Linked DNA regions of Homo sapiens: all the other regions are linked to region 1. The links come from fine-mapping of genetic effects on gene expression. A gene starts in region 1. Each other region holds a variant in brackets. All regions are shown on one strand. Distances are from middle to middle.

Region 1 (5,631 bases):
AGCAGCCCCTTTCATCCTGTCTGCCTTAGCGGTTTATTTTAGGCATGACCTGACCAGGTGCTCTGGGTCAATAGGCTTAGTTTTAAATAACTGGATTCCTCTCAATGACCGTTCCCTTTAGAAGGGAGGGGGCATGGTAGAAGAATAAGCCAGCAGGCTGAGGGCGGTGAGAGATGGGAGCTAAGACAGAAGACTGGAAACGTGAGGGCTCTGTCACTCCCTGCGTGACCTCGGGGAAGGCTCATGGCTTCCCCACTCTGGGCCTCAGTTTCCTTATCTGTAAAGCAAAAGATCGGTCTGGGTCATCTCAAACACCCCCTGCAGTCTGTCCCCCCGTCTCTGTTCTATGCCTGTGTTTCCAGATGACAAAACACCTCCTGCAAATTGTTTCAGGGTGGTGATTTTGCATGAAGAGCTGAGCCACCGAGGGATGCTGCAGCTTATAGAGCAAGCTCTGCTCTGGAGTCGGGAGGCCTGGGTTCTAGTCTTGCTTCTGATACAACCTTGGTGGCCTTGAACAAGTTAAGCCCCGATTTTCTCACCCGTTTAAAGGACGAACCTTGAAAACATTATGCTGAGTGAAGTAAGCCAAGCACAAAAGGATACATACTTTATGATCTCACTTATGAGGTACCTAGAATAAGCAACTTCATAGAGACAAAGTAGAATAGTGGTTGCCAGGAGCTGGGGGAGGGGAGGGGAAGGGGGAGTTATTATTTAATGGGTGCAGGATTCTGTTTGGGATGATGAAAAAGTTTTGGAAATGGTAAGTGATGATGGTTGCACATCGTGAATGTATTTAATGCCACAGAATAGTACACTTCAAATGGTTGAAATGGTAAATTTTATGTTATGTACATTTTAACATATTAAAAAACACACTTTTCAAAATTTAGTTAAAATTTCTAGGGATATTTTGGCAAAACCTGGGAGTGAGGAGTCCCAATTCTCCCATGTGAACTTAGGCCGCACATTTCGAGGAAGTAAATTTTCTTCCTCTGGCAAATGCAGCTAGCCAGTGGACCCCTTCTCTCCCTCCAAACTTCGCACTCCACACCTTAGAGTCTGCCCAGGTACAGCCCAATTGTCAGGGCATACTCAAAGCAGCTTCCATGACCCTGCAAAGGGAGCTACAGTCCTGGCTCATAGGCCATTCTCAGGGATACCTGGATCCCTTCTCTGGGTTCTATGTATCCTCTTATTTTGGAATTAAGACGAAAGGAGGGCTTTCCAACCATATTGACCTTTTACAGCAGACCTGGCTCAGCCATGCCTGAGTCCCCAGTGCCTGAGCCAGTGCCTGACACAGCAGGTGCTCAACATTCATTTGGTCACTGAGAAGACGCCCTCACTCCAGTCCTATTCTATGCCAACTTCATAAAGATGAGTGTAAGGAATAAGCCAATTTCTGTCAGGCAGGAAAGCTATAGGGGTGGGTAGGTGAAGACAAAGGAGGAAGATAACACAGGTAGCGTAGACATTAAACTGCTCATTGTGAATAACCGTTTAAATAGTCACAATGTGCCAAGTGCTGAGGAAAATTCGAACAGCGTGCCAGGGGGTGGCTGGACTCATCTGGGGTTCTCCGGAGGGCAGGCTTGCGGAAGTCACGAGGGGTTGGAAGGGCAGCTATGAACTTTGGGGTGGGGAGTAGCACCAGACAGCACTGAAAAGCCTGGGATTCTACCCAGAGCGTCCATGCTCCTCCTGGGGAGGGTGGGGGGGCCGGGTAAGCTGAGTCCGAAAGAGGCAGGAAGCTCGTGTCCCAGGTGACTTAGGCCAGTAGAAACCGGGCGTCCTTGGCTGAAGCATGGCAGGCTGTTGGCACATGGATGACACATGCCTGTCTGCGACCACAGGCTCCAAGCCGGTGGGTGACAGGGACCCCTCGCCTCTCAGACAGCGGAGCCGGGTCGGGGCGGTCTGGCCCGGGCCGCCGCTCCTGTTCCTGGGCTTGTGGGGCTGGGGTCCGTCTGGGCTCCGGGCTCGCGCGGCGCTCACCACCCGGGGTGCCGCGGGGGGGCGGGGAGAGCGGCCGCCTAGCCCAGCCCCGCGGATGACAGGAGCCGGGGAGCCGAGGAGGGAGGAGCCGCCGCCGCAGCCGAGCGCTGGGCTGAGGAGCAGAGAGAGCGGGGCGCCGAGTGCGGGCGGCTGGGAGCGCGCTGAGCGGGGGAGAGGCGCTGCCGCACGGCCGGCCACAGGACCACCTCCCCGGAGAATAGGGCCTCTTTATGGCATGTGGCTGGTAACTTTCCTCCTGCTCCTGGACTCTTTACACAAAGGTGAGACCTGCGCGGGCGGCTGGGCGGCGGAGGCGGCGGGGCCAGGGTGGCGCGGCTGGCGGCGAGGCGGGGTGCCCGGCGGGCTCCAGGTGCGTGGGGGAACCGACCGGGGTGCAAGGCCCCGGGTGGGGCGCAGCGGGGAGGGGCAGGCACCCTGACAGGGGCCGAGTGAGAGTCAGCCCCCGACCGCTCCGCCAGCCACCCGCGTCTGCCGTTTTGGGGCGCGCCCGTAGGGGTGGTGGCAAAGGAGCCCCTCATCTCCCTGCTCCCTGCACGGCGGCAGTTCTGCCCTGGACCCCTCCCCCAGCCCCTTGCCCTCTTCCTGCGGCTTGGTGGCACTGGGACCCCGGAGTGCCCTCCGAGTCGAGGGGTCCTCAGGCCGTGACTCTTGACCTAGGAGTCCTTGCTTATTCAGGCCTCGGACTCGGCGGCTGATTCCTCCGCTATGTCCGTGCGTCCCTCTCCCGCCGCGGACCCCAGCCCTGGCGCGAATGTTGGCGCACCGCATGGCGCTTATCCGCGCATTGGCTGGAGGCAGGGTGGGGATAGTGAGAGTCCCGAGAGCTGGAGGTCCCTCGGATAGCAAGTTTGTTCTCCAAACCCAGAGGTCACCCTCCCCCGGCCCTACCCCACCCCTCTGCCCCGGCTTTAGCCCCGGCTTGGTGCGCCACCGTGGCCACCTCGGGCAGCGCGCCCCAAGATGCGAGATTCTCCGCTTCCGCGCCTGGCCAGTTGGACCTGGGGACAAGTCTTCAGGCTGGGGGGCGTGTCCCTCTTCCCGGAGAGAGGGGGTTGCTAGGGGTGGGTCCAGGTGTCCGGCATGTCCAGACCTGCGGCTGGGGCGCTGCGTACCTGATCCGCGAGGCAGCCGGGATCGGGAGGTTGGAAGAGGGCAGACATTTCCGACTGAAGCCACCTGGGCACTGAGTCGGGACCAGGCAGGCGCAGGTAGTCTGGGTTCCAGGCTATCGCAGAGGACGTGCCCCCGGGCGCGCAGATGGCGGGAGATGAGGCGGCCGAACTCCGCGCCCTTGCGTGGTGGAGCACACACGCTCCAACAAGCTCAGCGTCACCTGTTCAGCCCTCTAACTTTTCTCCTTCTCGCCCCGGGGCGGCTTCTCTCTCCCTTTGCCCTGGCTGTTGCCCTGGCCGGGCGGCAACTCTTAACCCCAAGACGATGAGGAAGGGCACTCCAGTGGAGGGTTGCCACCCGGGGAGGGGTCCAACCCTGCCCTGCCGGTGCTCCAGGGGTCTGGAGTCTGCAGCCTGCCGGAGCCCACTGCGATACATCGTGGGTTGGGGGAAAGAGGATAACCCTTATTTGTAGATACTGCCGGGTCAAAGCCAGACTCAAGGCCCAGATACTGCTGGCATTTACTAGGCGATCGGATTGCGGGACAAGGAAGGGTGGCCTCAAAAATCGTCGACAAAGTAGTTGAGTTTCTCAGGCCCAGTGGGGTCCCCCGGGTTACACACCAAGGCTGGTCTCTGCTGTTTAACCCCTTGCCCCCCGCATCGCACTCCTTCATCCTACCTTAGCAGAGCAAGAAGCCTGCCTCCTGTTCAAGCCCCACCCCCGAACCCCAGTCTCCCTCTCCCCAGGTTCTTCCTGCCTCCCTCCGCCCCCGCAGGCTGGCTCGGCTCGCAGCTTTAATTACATTAATATTAAAAATACATAAGGTGAGGAGCGGCTTTCTCTCTCGATAGTTCTCTCTCCAACCCCCATCCCCTTTCGCAATTTGTCAGGCGAGAAAGCACAGGCCGAAGCCGCTGCCACACTCTAGCCCGGCTTTGTCCCCAACTCCCCCATGCCTCCACAACACTCTCTGGAGACATCTTCCAGGACAGCCCATTCCCGGGGAGTGCAGGAGGCCCCTCAGCAAATACCTGAAGGACACTCCCCTCCCCCTTCCAGGAGCCTGGCATTAATAAATGAAGCCGAGCTATTTGATAGGGCGGGAGCAGATGGGGTTGGGGGTGGAGAAAGGCCCAGAAGGCAACAGGACAGCCAAGGGGCAAAATCTTGTCCAACTCGAGATGGAAGTTGCCAGTGGCCTTGGACCTGTAGGCGGGCTGGAGATGCCAGTTGTGGCGGCTCCTCGGTGGCCTTTGGGTCTGCAGAGCCCGGTGCCCCTGCGATTCAGAGGCTCCAGCGTCTGTCTGTTGGGCGCCAGGGTGCCTCGCCAGACAGGCTTTTCTTTTCCTTGGTGCCTTAATTGGGTCTTAGGTGCCAGGCTGGTCCCTGGGGCCTGTTCTGCTTGGGGTGGCGTGGTAGGGGGTGGCAGAGGCGGCTTGGGGGAAGATGTGATGCGGAGACAGCAAGAAAGATGGGGTTTGGAGTATTTTCTCTCCCGTTGCCAGTCACCCCCGCGGCACCAAGGAAAATGTAAATGTGAATGTTCGAGCCTGTTACAGAAAACAATATCCTCTTGCAATAATTTGTACGTCCATCTGTGAGGAGCGGGAGGAGGCAGGGAGAGAGAGAAGAAAACAGGATGAGATGGAGCATCCTTTGGATGGAATTAAGCAGTTATTGAATGTGTTTTAAGCTTCTGTTATTTCCATTCCTCTCAAAATACCTTTTTTTTATGATGCCTGAGCTCAGACTGATTCCCCAGAACTAAACTGGGAAGGTGTTTTAATCATCGGTTATCGAGTCTCCAATAACTGCCTTATTATTGCCAAAACAAATCCAGGTTTAGGCAGCCGGATGAACCCCGGCGAGGCGCTCTCCGTTGTTCCATCCAGCGTGCCAGCATCTGTGTTGCCTGCATTTGCATTTTTACTGTGTAAAAGAACAAGCTTCCCCGGCACTAAAATTCCTGTTTTCTAAAAGCCAAAATAATGGATTGCATTGATTTTTTCATTTCCCACCCCAACTTCTCCGATGGGGACTCATGGTTCTTCTCTCTTGGGAAGACCAAATTAAAAGCCTTCGTCAGGGCATTAAGAAAATCTCCAACATTCTGTTCAGTGTCTAATTAAAAAAAGGGGGGGGGGGCAATGGGGAAATGTGTTTTTAAAATCTTGAAATGGCAAACGCAACTTAGGGGAGGCAGGCGAAGGGCCAGTGAATACTGGGGAGGGGCTGAGTGGCAGAGAGACCCCGGTTGCTAGAATAACATGAGGGAGATTGGCAGGGCCATGATGCCCGACAAGCCTTTCCGACGCTTCGTTTTTCTGGGCATCAAAGCCAGCTGCCTTTAATATATTTCTGCAGTAGAATGGGGGAGCTAATTAGAAACAAAAAACAAGTAAGCAGTAGACCCAAAGGCGGCGCTTAAGTTGAACAGATCCCGGGGGACTGGACAGAGAGGCTTAGTTTTCTTAGGATGAGGATCAGAGAGGA
Region 2 (5,631 bases), 360 kb after region 1:
CTGCTACGCATCACCTCCAGCCTGCATTCTGGCCACCATCCTGTCACGTTCTGTGTCCTCCAGGACCCCCTCCACCAAACTATCCTCTGCAAGCAGCCAGGATGCATCTGAAATCGGCTGAGGACACCACTCCTTTTTTTTTTTTTTTTTTTTTTTTTTTGAGACAGAGTCTTGCTCTGTCACCCAGCGTGGAGTGCAGTGGCATGATCTCGGCTCACTGCAACCTCCACCTCCCAGGTTCAAGCGATTCTCTCGCCTCAGCCTCCCGAGTAGCTGGGGTTACAGGCACCTGCCATCGTGCCCGGCTAATTTTTTGTATTTCTAGTAGAGAGACAGGGTTCTGCCATGTTGGCCAGGCTGGTCTTGAACTTCTGACTTCAACCTCAGGTGATCCGCCTGCCACAGCCTCCCAAAGTGCTGGGATTACAGGCGTGAGCCACCAGGCCTGTCCAACACCACTTCTTATAACCCTCTGGTGGCGGCTTTCTAAGAGGGAGTCCAGTCTCCTGGCCCTGCCAACAAAGCCCCCAAGATTCTACTTCTGCCCGTCCCCTTGGACTCAAGCTTTGGTTACCCCAGAGTATTTGCAAACCCTCACAGCTGCCGTGAGCTTCAGGTCTCCATGTCTGTGCTTAGTGCTATTCCCTCTTCTTGACATGTGTCTCCTTCCCTGCTTATAAAGTCTTTCTTAACCTTCAAGTCAGAGCTTCCAATTCCAGATGCTATTCCCGGCCGTTGCCTCCACTGCCCACTTATGGGCAGCATTCATTCCCCCTGCCTCGCACCCCTAGGCTTCCTCGTGCCTGCACCTACCATAGCATTTTGCCCCGTTATAATTTTTCCTTAAGTATCTGTCTCCCTCTTGGATGGTGATCAACGTGAGGACAGGGAATAAATCATACTCATTTTTTGAATCCTCAGAGCCTCTTGTGATCCTGACCATAACTGGTATTTCATCAATGTTTCTTGAGTCAATGTCTCCCAGCCAATATTCCCTGACACCTACCCCTCACCAAAAGCCCAAGGTGGAGGTCAGATCGGGGAGGGAGGATTTGAACTGTAAATCCAGGGGGCCCTAAGGAAGGAGGCCAGGATATTGTGCAGGGGTAGAAGTGGAGTGGCCCTCATCCTCTCCTCCCTGTAGCCCCAGCAAAGATCATCTCCTTTGGGGGCACCGTGACAACACCTTGGATGAAAGATGTTCGGCTGCCTTGCAATTCAGTGGGAGATCCAGCCCCTGCTGTGAAGTGGACCAAGGACAGGTGTGTGTCGGGACAGTGGAGGGATGGGGTGGCCCCAAAGAGGGATATAGTAGAAGAGCGGTGTGGAGAAGAGTCTGGGGCCCTCCTGCCTGGTGACCCGGTTGCCTCCAGGCCTGCAGAGGCCCTGCAGGGTGTGCTGCTACTGCTCTCTCAAGCAGGCCTGGCCTCCTGGCTCCCCTCTTGGGAGCCAAGGACCTCCCTTCCCCGGATGGTTAAAGAGGCTGGGTTACCTCATACCCCCAGGGAGTGCTGAGCAAAGCCCCAAGAACCCGGCGTTCCCTGGCGAGCCTCCTTCCACCCCCAGCTCTCTTTGTCACACACCGGGGGGAGGGCCTCAGGAGGAAGGGGTGCTTGACATGACCCACCCGCCCCATCCTCGCCCCTGGCAGTGAAGACTCGGCCATTCCAGTGTCCATGGATGGGCACCGGCTCATCCACACCAATGGCACACTGCTGCTGCGTGCAGTGAAGGCTGAGGACTCTGGCTACTACACGTGCACGGCCACCAACACTGGTGGCTTTGACACCATCATCGTCAACCTTCTGGTGCAAGGTGAGGCTCTGTGAGGCAGGTGACCCCAGGTGGGGACAGGGATGGAGAAAGGGTAGGGATTCCATCATGCGAGAGGGTCATCGAATGGAAGAAGCCAAACCAAGGGAGAGACAGACCTCTGGAGAAACAGAGGTGCACATGGAAGGGGAGGCAGGAGAGCTGGGGAGTGGGAGTGGGAGTGAGGGTGTGGGAGAGCCAGCACCTTCCCGTCACGGGGGGACTCCCCACACCCCATCACAGGGTCCGCCCTTGTGCTAAGGGGTGGTGGCTTTCCCCTCACAGTTCCCCCGGACCAGCCCCGCCTCACTGTCTCCAAAACCTCAGCTTCGTCCATCACCCTGACCTGGATTCCAGGTGACAATGGGGGCAGCTCCATCCGAGGTGAGGAGGGGTCTGGATGCGGGGGAAGATAGGGGAAGGAATTCTGGGCCCGGGGCAGGGAAGGGGCTTCACCCACTTCTGCCATTTGTCTCCAAATGACAGAAACGATCTGGGGGCCAAGTGACCCACAAGGAAGTCACTCAAGTGCCAAGGGAACTGCAATGGCCCAGGCACCTGGGATTTAGTACGCCCGCCCCTCCAATGCCACTTGTGAGCTGTGTGACCCTGGAGTAGGCTGTTTCCCTCTCTGAGTCTGGGTTTCCCAATCTGTCGAAGTAGACAAATGGACTACTAGATCAGTGCTTTCCAAGTGTGGGCGTGCGTCTGCGTCACCAAGGGGCCTTGTAACAATGCAGTTCTGACTCAGCGCTCTGGGCTGGGGCTGAGGACCTGCCTTTCTAACACGCCCCAGGTGCTTCTGAGCCTGCTGCTCAGGGGGCCGTGTCTAGATCCTAGTGAAGATCTAGACAGGACCCCTTGTGAGCCTCACAACTCTGGTTTTCTCCCCTCCCGAACCTGCCGCTAACCCCTAACACTAGAACCAAAGTGACAGCGTCAGACCCGCCGGGGGCTGGACCCCAGGCCCTCACAGTGTTTTGTTGATTGGTTGGTTTAACATAGAGAGTTGACTGGGGCTGATCCTTCCAATTTTGCTTCTAAGGAGCATATGCCCGTTCCAATGACCAAAAGCCTGACTCTGCCCCCTGCCTGGAGCCCAGCCCCCTGTTGGGGTACCTGAGGCTGGGCTTCTGCTGCCTTGCCCTGCCCTGCCCCCACCTGAATCAGGCCTACCCTCCGCAGGCTT[C/T]GTGCTACAGTACTCGGTGGACAACAGCGAGGAGTGGAAGGATGTGTTCATCAGCTCCAGCGAGCGCTCCTTCAAGCTGGACAGCCTCAAGTGTGGCACGTGGTACAAGGTGAAGCTGGCAGCCAAGAACAGCGTGGGCTCTGGGCGCATCAGCGAGATCATCGAGGCCAAGACCCACGGGCGGGGTGAGGCCCAGGCCACTGGGGCAGGGAAGGAGCGATGGGCCCAGGGAGGGTGGGCTAGAGGGGCCAGGTATGGGGTGTAAGGTGGCTGGGGTGGGGAAGGAGGGGTCCAGGGATGCAGGGAGACTGAAGGGAGGAGCCTCAGCCTCCTTCCCGTCACCACAGTGTCCCGATGGATCCCATTAGGAAAAACTAGTTCCACTTCCCCACCGGGTGGCCGAAGGTGGCATTCCTTTGCCTCTTCCCAGCTCCCTTCCTCCTCTACTGAGGCCCCTCTCCAGGCCCTGCCCTTTTCTTCCCTCTCCTCCCTCCCCTCCTCTTCCTCCTCTGCGCCCTGGGGCTTCCCCACCCCATCTGTGCCAAACATGTATTCTCCTGGAGCCACTGCCATCCCAGCTGCCCCAGGGAAATCCTTTCCAGCCCAGCCCAGTCCAGTCCTGCCTCCCACCAAATCTCTCTAACCTCTCTCTCTCCCTCCGGCCTGCCAGAGCCCTCCTTCAGCAAAGACCAACACCTCTTCACCCACATCAACTCCACGCATGCTCGGCTTAACCTGCAGGGCTGGAACAATGGGGGCTGCCCTATCACAGCCATCGTTCTGGAGTACCGGCCCAAGGGGACCTGGGCCTGGCAGGGCCTCCGGGCCAACAGCTCCGGGGAGGTGTTTCTGACGGAACTGCGAGAGGCCACGTGGTACGAGCTGCGCATGAGGGCTTGCAACAGTGCGGGCTGCGGCAATGAAACAGCCCAGTTCGCCACCCTGGACTACGATGGCAGTGAGTCGCAAGGGTGGAAGGGATGGTACAGAGGCTGGAGCAGGGTGGTGCGAAGGAAGTGGGCAGAGTGGCAGATACATAAAGAGACAGACTAATAGAAAAACAGGCAGGAATGCAGGTGGGGGAAATGCTGGCCTGCAGGTGAAGGGGCTGACAAAGGGGACATCAGGTTTGTTGCAGCCAGGTAAGCGGGCAGATGCACCAATGGCCACTACAGATGGACAGACACATAGGTCAGTAATACCAAAGATGGAGAGTCTTTGAAGCTGCAGTCCTCAATCACTGTGCATTGTTTCAGGGAGGTGACAAGGGAGGTAGAGGTGTGGTTGAGGTCCTGACCTCTAAGAACTTTCTGCTGATATGGAATATTAGCCAGGAGGGGACAGCCTATGCTGCAGTCGCAAATACCAAAACCTGGTGGCTTAACCCTGTACTGATTTGTTTCTTGCTCTCTTGGAGTCCTGCGAGGGTTGAGTGGCCACCATCTTTTTGAACATGGAGACTCCAGGATCCACAGAAAAGGCATACTACCAGTTCCTAACTGCATCTGCCACATGGGGATACATACACACGTGCACACATACACACACATACACACACACACACATCCATTGAAGGGACATGGAAGGCTGAATTCATAGAAGCCCATTGTCACAAGTCTACCTATGTGTTAAGGAAACAGAATAAAAGCAGTATTAAAAGGGGATGGACTCAAGCAAGGAAGGCTTCATGAAGGAGGTGACTCTTAAGCAAAGCTCTGAAACAGGCAAGGGTCAGGGCTTGGCAGAGGGTTATGTCAGCAGGAGAACTTGCCATGCTTCCCCACAGGAGCCCCAGGTTAACAGATATGGCCCCCAGGAGGGGTGAGCAGGGAGAGAATGTAGGGTTTGTAGTGGTTTTTGTCTCCATCTGGGGAAGAGAACCCAGGGTCCACTGCCCAGACTTCTCCCTACCATGCTTCACCCTTTGTTCTCCCCACCCCAGCTGGATATCAGAATTTAAGCCCATCAATCCACTCTCTGGGAATGAGCACTGAACTTCAACAGGCGAGAGACTAACTCCAGGAGACTTTAGGCTAATTCTACAACAGTACCAGGACTTTGTTAATAAAATGCAATATTAAAACTACACAACTGTTCATGGCTGTCCTGATAGGACCAGAATTTGGGGAGCAGAGGGGAAGTCCAGGGTTCTGTGCCAGGAGGTGGAGGTCAGAGCCCAAGGGCAGCAAGAGAGGTCAGAGGACTGCCCCACCCATGAGATGTTCTGCACAGCACCTGGCTCATAAGGGACATCTAATTCTATTCTTTGCCCTCATTCAGGCACCATTCCACCCATCAAGTCTGCTCAAGGTGAAGGGGATGATGTGAAGAAGCTGTTCACCATCGGCTGCCCTGTCATCCTGGCCACACTGGGGGTGGCACTGCTCTTCATCGTACGCAAGAAGAGGAAGGAGAAACGGCTGAAGCGACTCCGAGGTGGGGGAGCTTCCTATGGGCCTTCCAGGAGGGGGTGTTGGCTCTCAGCCACATTGTCCCCCCCCTTCCCTGGCTCACAGCACCATCTGGATGATACAGAGTGCCTGTGTCCCCTTGAAGGAGGAGCAGCCACTCAGACTTTCTGAAACCTCCTTAGTTCAGAAGGTTTCGTTCACCACTTCCTCCTCTATGCC
Region 3 (5,631 bases), 310 kb after region 1:
CCGCAGGAGAGGCCTGCATGCAATGTGGGGTGTCAGGGAAGAGCCCTGGAAGTCATCAGGAAGCCTCCTTGGCCTCCACCAGAGTATGCCCCAATTTGGTCATCACAGTGCCAGGCACTGTAGCAGGTGCTGGGGACTGTAACTGAGGCTTGAATGAAATGGGCCGTCTTCACACCAGGGTCTTCACTCCCCCAGGGTCTCAGAGAGAAGACCCTACCCCACCTAAAGCTGCTGTATAGGAAGGAGCTGTGTATTGAGAAGGAGCTCACCCACACCACTGTGCCTAGCCCTAGCCCTTCCCTTCTCTCAAGTCCCCAGAAAGTCTCCCCTGCACCCGTTTGTAAAGAGAAATCAGATTTCCCTGGCTGTTAATTGAATTAGATTGCAGGAAAGCAGAGAAGTTGTATTTCATTAAAGCCTCCTGTGCCCTACAGAGCAGTGAGGTGCTTTTGTGGCTGTCATTAGCATTTGTCACGCAGGACCCAGCCCTGTGCATATACCCCACCCCGGCTCTCCCGCCTGCACCCCTAAAGCAGCAGTCCCCACTGCCTGCCCCAGGAGTACCTGCTGCAGCTGCCCCGCCGCAGAGGCCACAGCTTTTTGGTGACAGCCAAATTCCATTTCCAAAAGCCAGGGACTGTATGCAAGGGTGGCAGACAAACAGATGGCTAGAGGTGGCCAGCCCCCTTAGAGGTGGAAGAAACACTTTCTGGAAGCCTCAGTTTCCTCATTTGAAAAGTGGAGATGATAAGACTTGCTTTCGTGGTTGCTGTTGGGAGGAACCACTGAACAACAGGCCAAAAGGCAGAGGCATCCAGCTCAGGGCCTGCTTTGTCAGGGGAACCTGGGCATGCGGGAGGCCATGGAGCTTCGTCAAGAAATACACTGAGACACAGGCTTTGGAACCGGGGCATAATAACAGTGCCTACCTCAGATGAGTTCATTCATGCAAAGTACTTAGAATCCTGCCAGGACATGGTAAGCACCCAATAAAAGGGAACTATACAAGTGTGTGTGTGGAGAGAGCCTGTGCTTATGGACTACAGCAGTGTGGGGAGATGTGTGTTAAACAAGCACATCAGGGTATTGACATGCAATTGATCATTGCATCGGGTTATGTGTGTGTAATGCCGTCCATGGGTTTATGGTAAGGGTGTCAGAGCATAGGCTGTGAGGGTGACTGTGTTTGTGACTGTCTGTTGAGGTGTGTTTCTGACACTGCCCCTCTGTGTGTGGTGTGTGTGTGTGTGTCTGTGTCTGTGCATGTCAGGATTTGTACTCCTGGTGAGTGCATATGACCATCTCCCCAGGGAATTCGTGGTGGCCGCCTTCACCCAAAAAGCCCTGTGAGGTACAGCTGGTCTCCATATAGAGAGAGTTCAATCTTGTTTATTACTGCGACTCAATGAAGCAGAGAGATCTTGTAGTCCAGAGCAAGAAGTAAGGGGGAGGTGGAAGAAGGTGAAGGATCAATGGGGCAGGCACCTATGCCCTGAACTTCCCCCTATTAAGGGGCTGCCTTGTTAAGCCCAGCAGTACAGCAGCCAGGAGGGCCAAAGCTCCTATTTGTGGGCACAGGAGGACACCGTGGTCCTTGGAGGCTGGGTGCAGGGCCGGATGGAGGGGCACAGTGGCAGAGTTCTCTGTTCTGGTTAGTTGGCAGAAGAAGAGGGGAAGAGGATTCCCTGCCTCTTACTGAGGACAAGGGGCTGAAAGCGCCCATCTGCAAGGACACGAGTACTCTGATTCATAGAACCACTTCATCAGACAGTGAGCCACATTCCCAGACCGTCTTTCCCTCTCCTGAGACCCGGGCACCCCCAAGGGCCCAAAGACAAGGGGCCCAGATCCAGGCCTTAATTGACTCCTTTCTGTGAGGCCACAGGTTGTCTACTTCCAATGCAGGGAGCTTGCCACTTCCCACTGTGGCCCTTTCCCCAAACAGCAGAAAATACTAGAACATTCCTTCTTAGGCCAAGTAGGAGGTCTTCCCTTCCCCCCTTGCAGTGTCTCTCCCTTGCTCCCTGGGTTACTAATTCCCAGTTCTCAGCATGCTTTGAAATCGGCCCATCTTACTGGTCACACTCCAGCCTGTCAATGTCCTTCGTCAAATAGGGTCCCCAGAACAAGACCTGATATTTCTTGGTTAATGTTAGGAACAGATAACCTGAGCTTGTAATTATGAGTCCTAGAGAGCTGAGAAATCGCATTCCCAGTGATACCGGGCCGCCCACCCTTCACAGCATCGCTGTGTGTTCAGTACTGCCCTCTGCAACCCATCCTCTTTTAAGATGCTCTTCTGCTTACCAGCAACGTGACCTTGGGCAAATTGCTTCCTTGCATCACCTCAGTTTCTCCATTTGCCAAAGGAAGGGTCTGTGTCACTGATCTATACCAGTTCCATTCAGTAGAACCATAACGTGAGCCAAATAATATGTAATTTGAAATCCCCTCTCTGTCACATGTTCAAAAAAATAAAAAACAGGTGAGATTAATTATAATAGTATATTCTATTTAACTCCATACATCTAAAATATTAACAGATAGTCAATATAAAACTTAATGACAGCCAGGTGCAGTGGCTCACACCTGTAATCCCAGCACTTTGGGAGGCTGAGGCGGGTGGATCACCTGAGATCAGGAGTTCAAGACCAGCCTGACCAATATGGTGAAACCCCGTCTCTACTAAAAATGCAAAAATTAGCCAGGCGTAGTGGTACGCGCTTGTAATCCCAGCTGCTTGTGAGACTGAGGCAGGAGAATCACTTGAATCCAGGAGGCGGAGGTTGCAGTGAGCCAAAATTGTACCACTGCACTCTAGCCTGGGCAACAAGAGCAAGACTCTGTCTCAAAAAAAAAAAAAAAAAAAAAAAAAAAAAAGGTATTTTACATTCTTTTTTTTTTTCTTCCTACATTTTTGAAATCCACTATGTATTTTATACTTATCACACATCCCAATTTGGGCTGGCTGTATTTCAAGTGCCCATTAGCCCCATGTGGCCAGCAGCTGCTACAAATTCAGTAGAACAGGTCTTCATCTGGGCTCTGCAATGCTAGGATGCTAGGATTCTGTGGAATCACCTGGCAAGTAACACCTGAAGCCA[G/A]TAACTTGTACACGTGTATTTTCTGAACTTGTAGGAGTAACAGACATGGGTCTTATACAGTCTTGCACTTCCCAGATTAACTTTTAGGGGCAAGGCCTGGAAGGAAGCTGGCAGTATTCCCATGGAAGGATATACATCCATCTTACTGCACCAGGTCTCTGCTTTCCTTCTTGCCTGAGACATGCGCCTTTCACATCCACCATTTTCACATCCACCATTTTCACATCCGCTACTTTCATATCTGCCACTTTCACATCCGCCATTTTCACATCCGCCACTTTCCCATCCGCCACTTTCACATCCGCCATTTTCACATCAGCCACTTTCACATCCGCCATTATCACATCCGCCATTTTCACATCCGCTACTTTCACATCCACTACTTTCACATCTGCCATTTTCACATCCGCCACTTTCCCATCCACCACTTTCCCATCCGCCACTTTCCCATCCGCCACTTTCCCATCCGCCATTTTGGGAGTTCAGCAGACCCAGTTTAGCTAATTGGCTGATTGCATTCACTTGCGCTGGCGAGGATGGAAAAGAAAATGACTTCTGACCTAGTTTTTTCTTTGAGCCTTTTCCATGGAGTCTGGTAATGCATGTCAAGCCACACACCCTTTTCCCTGCCACTTGTACATGTGAGGTAGTCCTTATTACCTGGCACCCAGTTGTTTTGAATTCAGGGGCTAATTATACCAGCCCAGTGGGGTTCTGGTTATCAAGCTAGGACCGGCCAGCGCTGGCTGACACCAGTAGGTGTAGCCTATGACACAAGGAACCATTGGCCAGGCCAAGAAGAGCCACTTTTGACACTTCAATGGAGGTTGACTCTGGCCAGGTCCTCTTTTGCCTAGGACCACATTCTCTGACATTTGCTTTCAGTACCACAGTCTGTCTTCAGGCCACAGACCTAGGCTTTTTTCCTCTACCCAAAAAGACCCTTGTCCTGACACACAAAATGAAAGGCAATAATCTATGTTGCACGTCACACGTTTCTATAAAAAAGAGCTCCTGTCTTGATGGAACCCCTTGGGGATAGGACTAGAATCCAGGTTTCTTAAGCAAGTGCTGTGTGGCAGGCAGTTTACATATGTGGGTTCACTTTGTCCTCACAATGCTCCGTGGGGCTCACAGAAGTTAGCTTTAAGGGGTGGAAGGCCACATAGCTCGCAGCCACAGAAGCAGATCCCAGGCTGGCCTGGCCCCAAGCCCCTCAAGCTTCTCTCCTCTTCCTCATGAACGGGCTCCCCTGAACTAGCCCTGAGCTAGGGGACTGTAAGAGTTGTGGTGTGTGATGCTCATTGCCATCCTAAGCTGGTGGAAGGGTGAAGGGACCCTGTCTCAGGCTCCAGGTATGGTTGTTACCACACACAGAAGGGCTGAGGGGCCAAGGATCCCTGGGGACCCTGCTGTCCCTGGCTGCCCACAGGGCTGAACAAAGCTGACTAGAAAGGCAGGTTCCCTGAAGTGGGAATGGCATGTATGGATACACAGGTTGTGCACTGCTCAAAAGTACATAGCCTCAGGGGTGAATGGGGTCTGAAACATGGTCCCTGCTTCATTGGCCAAGCTGTGGCTCCCGGCACCAGGCAGCACCCAGCCAGAGGCATGGTGGGGTTGCCTTTGTAATTCACACACAGGTCCTGGAAGGGTTAGTGCAGGCCTGCCTGGAGAACAGAACAGAGGTGTGCTGCAGAACTGTGAAGTCCTCCTACCAAAGAAAGACCCTCCCAGCCCCACTTACACACACACACACACACACACACACACACACACACACACACACACACACACACACTGTTCCTCTGCTTCTCTGTGGCTTCAGCAGCAACCTCTCAGGAACAGGATTCCTCCCCAGGAAGGAGGCCTCAGGGCCCGACCCATGGGGGTCCCAGTCCCCAGTCCGCTTACGAGCCTCCCCGACACCCGAGCTCAATTCTCCAGTAAAAAATGGAGGCATCTGCAATGCAAGTCCTGACTTGTTGGTGTAAAATCTTACTCTATATTCCACCCAGGTTTATACGAGTGAATTATGCAAATCTTTGATGGAAAAATATTCCTCCGCACATCCTTGAGAGTGTAAAACCTTAGTCAATAATTCATACTCGGATGTCTCTGACTGCAGGCTTTTTCTTCATTATAACTTGCACCTCGTTATTTGTCTTTTGCATTTTATTGTATATCCTAGTGTAATGCCGTGCATTATAAAATTTATCTGCTTCATTATTTGATGAGCTGGGGCTGGGGAATGTGCTGAGAGGCTGGTGCGGGGGCCTGGAGGCCAGGGCTGTCGTCAGCATCAAGTCCTGCATGACAAGGCAGCAGAGGAGGTGGCTTGCTGTGTGGTGTGACTTCGGGGAGCCTGAAACCTCCCTTCATCCACCCTACTCCTGTCCCAGACGCCTCCTCACCCACGGACTGGTGTCAGATGGCACCGTGGCAGCTCTGTGGCTCCCCTCATTTCTTCAAAGGCTTATTTGTCCATAAAAGTCAGACGTCCCTGGAGAGTTTGCTGGGAACAACT

Direction of the effects. Positions count from the first base shown, and alleles are read on the strand shown. Sizes are in standard deviations (SD) of each study's normalised expression. Not every link is listed here.
As copies of T replace C in region 2, the expression in thyroid of the gene that starts at base 2,100 in region 1 goes up (small effect, 0.30 SD a copy in GTEx).

What was found. PIP is the estimated chance that this variant, and not a neighbour inherited with it, causes the effect.
Region 2: its variant is the best candidate, but not a certain one, in a credible set for the expression of DSCAML1 in thyroid (GTEx, PIP 0.88).
Region 3: its variant is the best candidate, but not a certain one, in a credible set for the expression of DSCAML1 in tibial nerve (GTEx, PIP 0.54).

What each region holds. Positions count from the first base shown.
Region 1 is chr11:117,793,685-117,799,315 of GRCh38, reverse strand. It overlaps DSCAML1 (DS cell adhesion molecule like 1), which reads left to right and starts at 2,100. Exons shown (of 33, transcript NM_020693.4): 1 at 2,100-2,282. The coding sequence starts at 2,237.
Region 2 is chr11:117,435,450-117,441,080 of GRCh38, reverse strand. It overlaps DSCAML1 (DS cell adhesion molecule like 1), which reads left to right. Exons shown (of 33, transcript NM_020693.4): 22 at 1,145-1,262; 23 at 1,652-1,815; 24 at 2,098-2,196; 25 at 2,998-3,186; 26 at 3,672-3,959; 27 at 5,282-5,437. Among named protein-coding and RNA genes, the nearest start is that of CEP164, 110 kb to the right of the region's middle. RefSeq lists an enhancer at 2,398-3,372. The variant C/T (reference allele first, on the strand shown) is at 3,002.
Region 3 is chr11:117,484,161-117,489,791 of GRCh38, reverse strand. The region is part of intron 11 of DSCAML1 (DS cell adhesion molecule like 1); the gene reads left to right. Among named protein-coding and RNA genes, the nearest start is that of CEP164, 160 kb to the right of the region's middle. The variant G/A (reference allele first, on the strand shown) is at 3,105.